Linked DNA regions of Homo sapiens: region 2 is linked to region 1. The links come from fine-mapping of genetic effects on gene expression. A gene starts in region 1. The other region holds a variant in brackets. All regions are shown on one strand. Distances are between the middles of the regions. Region 1 holds the start of PLLP (plasmolipin). Region 2 overlaps PLLP (plasmolipin).

Evidence for each region. PIP is the estimated chance that this variant, and not a neighbour inherited with it, causes the effect. A credible set is the group of variants that fine-mapping cannot tell apart.
Region 2: its variant is the best candidate, but not a certain one, in a credible set for the expression of PLLP in whole blood (TOPMed, PIP 0.86).

Annotation. Positions count from the first base shown.
Region 1 is chr16:57,283,063-57,285,963 of GRCh38, reverse strand. PLLP (plasmolipin) reads left to right here and starts at 1,292. Exons shown (of 4, transcript NM_015993.3): 1 at 1,292-1,558. The coding sequence starts at 1,424. RefSeq lists a silencer at 1,099-1,508 and an enhancer at 1,553-2,214.
Region 2 is chr16:57,258,429-57,261,332 of GRCh38, reverse strand. It overlaps PLLP (plasmolipin), which reads left to right. Exons shown (of 4, transcript NM_015993.3): 3 at 2,749-2,871. Among named protein-coding and RNA genes, the nearest start is that of ARL2BP, 15 kb to the right of the region's middle. RefSeq lists enhancers at 1-50, 462-521, 532-671, 1,715-2,270 and a silencer at 2,883-2,904. The variant C/T (reference allele first, on the strand shown) is at 1,636.

The DNA.
Region 1 (2,901 bases):
TGGGGATTTTGAATGTTCTCACCCCAAAGAAGCCATAAATGTATGAGGTGATGGATATGCTAAGTACCTTGATTTGATTTTTTTACACAACGTACACAGGTACCAAAACATCACATGGTACCCCATATTTAGGTACAATTATAGGTTGCCGAAAAAGTAATTGCGGTTTTTGCTATACTTTTATATGCAAAAACCGTATAACTTTTGCACCAACCTAATATTACATGTCAGTTAAAAACAATTTTTTAAGTGGCTCTCTTTTTAAGTGGGTATTTGGGAAAAAAAAAATGTGGGAGCCAAGAAGGCCTTGTCTACTTCGTTTCCTGCTGTATCCACAGGGCCTGGCATGTAGTAGGTGTTCAGCAAACATTGGTTGATGAATGCATGATGACCTATCTGTGCAAACCTCTAGGCTCAAGAGGTGTGTGTGTGTGTGTAAGTATTTTAGGGTGCATGTGTGGCAATGAAACTGTATATGACCTCCCATCTTCTGAGTGACCCCTCCTCCCTCACGCTGTCAGGAGCTTTCTGGGGAATATTTCATTTATTCCCTACAACGCTCTGTGAGGCAGGTTTCCTTCGTATCTATATGACAGACGAGGAAACTGAGGCTCCGCGATCATCTAAGTTATATAAAATATGTTCAGAAGTGAAAACAGCATTAATAGGCAGAAAAGGACCTCCCCCTTCTACCGCTTACCCACCGCTTACCCAGACCCTCCCCTTCCCCGCGCTGGGTCTCCCAGGATTCTTCTTTACTTTCTTTTCTATAAAATACAGACGGGGGGAGGGGGGGCGTCTCACTGTGTTACCCAGGCTGGTCTCGAACTCTTGGCCTGAAATTATCCTTTCACCTTAGCCTCCCAAAGTGCTGCGATCAGAGGCAGGAGCCACCGCATCCAGCCTTCTCCCGGGACTCTTCAAGAGTCGCTGCGCCGGGGCCTAGGCCGAGGGTGCACAGCGCGTAGAAAGCGCCTGGGAGAGCGGTGTCCCCCGCGAGCTACCACAAGTTTATCCCTAGGCGCGGAAGCTACCACGGCCTGGGCGAGAGCCGGGAAATTCCCAGCGGGCGGCTTGCCCCGGGGGAGGCCGGCGAAGCGGTCTAGGCTGGTGCTGGCGGAGCCGATTCACGGACCCGGGGTTGTTTACTGGTCCGGGGAGTGGACGCGGCTGCCCACGAACCGGTCGCGGCTGGGGCGGCGGCGGCGAGCAAAGGGTTAAGGGGGCGGCCCCGGCGGCGGGGGCGGAGCCGGGATCTCGGCCGCACCTGGCGCCCCAGGCTCCCAGCCCCGACGCCTCCTGCAGCGCCTGGAGCCACACAGGGATCCGGAGCCTGGGGGAAAAGCGGCGCGGGAGCCGGCACCCACCGCTGGAGGGGCGGCGACGGCGGCCGTAGCGACCTCGGGAGGCAAGCGGAGCCGCCATGGCCGAGTTCCCGTCGAAAGTTAGCACGCGGACCAGCAGTCCTGCGCAGGGCGCCGAAGCCTCGGTGTCGGCGCTGCGCCCGGACCTGGGCTTCGTGCGCTCCCGCCTCGGGGCGCTCATGCTGCTGCAGCTGGTGAGAGCACGCGCGGGCCCACGGGGTTGGCCGGGGGCTCCCGGTCCGGCCAGGATGGGTGAGGGACTCCGGCGCTGCGTTCATTTTTCGCGAACCTTGCGCTCCCCACCCGGGCTCACACTGTCACCGACGCGCTGCGCGTACCCCTAGGGCGCTTCCCGCACGGACGCCCCCAAGATCGCCCTGCATCCCTCTCACCACGACACTACCCCGTGGCCGTCGCTGCGAGCGTGAGCACCCTGCACCGTGTACAGAGTGCCCACTGCCCGTGCCCCATCGTGCCCCCTCCAAGGTGGTTACCAGCGGCCACAGAAGCCCCCACCGGAGCCACAGTCACTGCGCACAACCCGCCAACCCTTCCCAGCCCTCCCTTCCCTCCTCTCTCTTTTTCACCCCTCTTTCTGCCCGGACAGTGCCCCCAGCCCTCTAGGGAACCCAGTCTGAGGCAAAGTCCACTCTCTGACCACCTTCTGTCCCGCTCCCAGCGGCTCCGGGTGGCCGCACCCATGAACATTCCTCATCTAATCTAGAGGGCACATCCGACTCCCCAACACGCACACTCAGGCACTACCCTGTGGGCGCCCGCGCGGGAGCCGGGCTCTTCTAGCTTTCTCTGGGTGACCCGCCAGGTTTCAGCCGGTTTAGCCAGCCCCACGGGACCGAGATATCGCTGGAGGGAGGGGTTTGTGGGTAGCCAGGGGCAAGACTCCTACTCTCTCCCAGACCCCTGTACAGACCCCAACTGAGGCGGACCCATGGGAACATCCTCCACTCCCACACCAGCCACAGGCCCGGATGTTAGCTTCTTCCTCTGCCACCCTTTCGTGAGGGTCTGGAAGCTGGGTGGGTGCCCTGGGTGGGTGAGGGCCTGATACATTTTCAGAGGACTCAGGTGGAATTGGAGTTGGGCCAGGACCTGTATTTCTTAGCAATCCAGCGAGTGGACATTTCCCATTGTCTCCTATTGCTGGGTGCTAGCGCTGCTGCGAGGCCCAAGCTAGAGGGCAGGGTGGTTGCTTTGGTGCCAGACCCTGGGCTGAGGTCCAGTCTCCCTTCCCTGACCTCTCCAGGTGCGGGCCCACCTCTACCTGGGTCAGTGCTATCTCATTTCAGGATTTCTCAGATCTCTGTGGGCCCCCTCCCCAACCTCTGAATCTCCTGGCGGGTTTGTTTAAAATTTAGATTATTGGACTCCACCCCCGGAAAAAAATGTGCAATCGGAATTTGAATCTCAGGAAGTACAGCCAGAAATTCATTTTTAACAGTTCTCCCAGAGTTTTTTGTTTGTTTCTCTTTTGGGGGGTGGGGGAGAAGGGGAGAAGATTCTGTCTTCTGAGGGAAGA
Region 2 (2,904 bases), 25 kb after region 1:
CATTTGGAATCTTAAAAATATTTTTCCCGGCCGGGTGTGGTGGCTCACGCCTGTAATCCCAGCACTTTGGGAGGCTGAGGTGAGTGGATCACCTGAGGTCAGGAGTTTGAGACCAGCCTGACCAATATGGTGAAACCCTGTCTCTACAAAAAATACAACAATTAGCAAAATACAACAATTAGCCAGGTGTGGTGGCGCGCGCCTCTAGTCCCAGCTACTTGGGAGGCTGAGACAGGAGAATTGCTTGAACCCAGGAGGCGGAGATTGCAGTGAGCCGAGATCACACCATTATACTCCAGCCTGGGTGACAGAGCAAGACTCCACCTCAAAAAAAAAATTTCCCTCTGGGGGTGGTCAGAATTTGTGCCTGTGTTGTGTGAGTTTGTGAGATTGTAGCTTGGCCCAGGTAGGCAGCCCTGTGGCTGGAGGCTGTGGCAAGCTGTCAGAAGTTGCCCAGGCCAGGGCCTCAAGTGTGCAGGACAAGCTCGGGCACCTGGCTGCCTGCAGGTGAGGCCCTGAGGCCTGGGAGAGGCTGGGCTCCCCAGGTTTGCCCCAGGACAGTCTCCCCAGGACACAGGGCTGAGAGCGGACATGGGAAGTACCCCGGCCAGACACACAGAAAGCTGCTGGTTTTTTTTTTCCTCTGACCCGGAAAACCCCTGCAGCTGGGGTCTGAGGCTTTCAGTGAGAAGAGAGGCGAGAAAGGCACATGATTGTAAGACAAGCAAGGCTGGGACTAGGCGGCATTGTTTGGAATTCAATGACTTTTTAAACCGAGGAAACGTGAGTCATCCTCAAGACAGAATGGGTTTGTTAGATCTCGACATCCCTGGCAGAAACAGGCAGCGTTTGCAGGGGTCGCTGGGCTTGCAGGGAAGATTTTGGGGCGAGGAGGCGGTGCCTTGACTTCCGGGCTCAGGGTCCACCCCCTCCCTCACGTCCCAGGGACCTCTAAGAGAGAAATCTCCAGAGATAAAAGCCTGTGTGTCTCTTAGGTGCAGATTTGGGGCTCCAGCCGTGGCTGTTAATGGAAGGAGGCTCCCTTCTGCCACAGTGGCAGGACATTGCTTCTTGTGCTTCTGGACCCTCAACGAATGGGGCAGAGAGGGCTTAACTGCATCTAGAGAAGGCTGGATTAGCATGGCCAATTTGGGATTTTCTGGCATGGGGGCTACAGACCCCTACAGGATCCAGGCAAGATATGTGAGTAAATTGGGTCAGGAGGGACCCTGGAGAAGCCAGCATCCATCTGCCCATCGCAAGCTGCCTCTATACTCACTTCATCTGTTCCTAGTGGGAATGCAGCCCCTTTGGAGCGAAATCTTTTGATATCCTAAGTTTTTTTTTTTTTTTTTTTAGACAAAGTCCCGCTCTGTTGCCCAGGCTGGAGTGCAGTGGCACGATCTTAGCTCATTGCAACCCCTGCCTCCCAGGTTCAAGTGATTCTTCCGCCTCAGCCTCCTGTGTAGCTGGGATTACCGGTGGGCACCATCACTCTTGGCTAATTTTTGTATTTTTATTGGAGACGAGGTTTCACCATGTTGGCCAGGCTGGTCTCTAACTTCTGACCTCAAGTGATCTGCCTGCCTCGGCATCCCAAAGTGCTGGGATTACAGGCATGAGCCACACTGCACC[C/T]GGCCAAGATTTTTTTAATATAAAATTTTTACATGAAGTCTTCAGGTTTTCATGAAATCTAATTTTATAATGTTGGTAATTTTTTAAAAGTATATTGGACGAACTGAATGAATGTTTGAGGACCAGGCGTTTGAAGACGGTGAATGGGCTCCTGGGGCCAAGCGTTTGGGATGAGGGACTGGTCCCTGGTTGTCAGCAGAGGGCCCCTTCCTGCCAGTCTGGTTCCATATCCAGCTTGAAATATCTGGTCCTCTTGGTCCTGACCCTGGCATTTGCTTAGAGCCTTGAGCTTAGGATGTGGCCAAGAGGGAGACAAAAATTCTTCCCCCTGAAGGCAGAGAGGGATGTGAGGCCCAGCCCAGGACTGGCCACAGAGCCAAACCTTGCAGTGGTACCAGGGATGGCCTGGGCTTGGCCCTGGACCACACTTGGAGGAGTAGCCTGTGTTTCTTTAGCTGGTACAAAGAGATGGGTCATGGATTGGGCTCTTTCTGTGAGGAATGGGTCTGGCACTGCCACTACCCCATCACTGAGGCCCTCCTGTCATTCCCCTCCTCCAGCCTCAGGTGTGTTCATGCTCCCTGCTCAGCAGGCCTCCTGGGGACCAGGGCCTCATGGGCTGACTCCCTGGAAACTGTGGCCTCTTGAGGCCCTGTTGGTGGGAAAGACCCAGGTGTTTGCATCACCATCCAATGGCTATTCAAGGAGTGTGCCAGTGGGAACCAAGAAGCCCCAACCGTTGGTCTTGTCTTTTTTTTTTTTTTTTTTTTTTTTTTTGAGACAGGATCTCACTGTGTCACCCAGGCTGGAGTGCAGTGGTGTGATCATGACTCACTGCAGCCTCAACCTCCCGGCTCCAGGTGATCTTCCCATCTCAGCCTCCCAAGTAGCTGAGATCACAGGCATGCGCCACCATGCCTGGCTAACTTTTTTATTTTTGTAGAGATGGGGCCTACCTATGTTCCCCAGGCTGGTCTCTAACTCCTGGGCTCAAGCGATCCTTCCACTTCAGCCCCGCAAAGTGCTGGGATTACAGGTGTGAACCACCGTGTCTGGCCTCTCTTTGTGTCTTAAGCCTTTTCTCTCCCCACTCCCTACCCCCATGTCCTGCAGTTAATGATCTTTAACATCAGCGCCACCGTTCTCTACATCACCGCCTTCATCGCCTGCTCTGCGGCAGTTGACCTGACATCCCTGAGGGGCACCCGGCCTTATAACCAGCGCGCGGCTGCCTCGGTGAGTCTGCTTCCCAGGCTCCCTTGGTGGTCT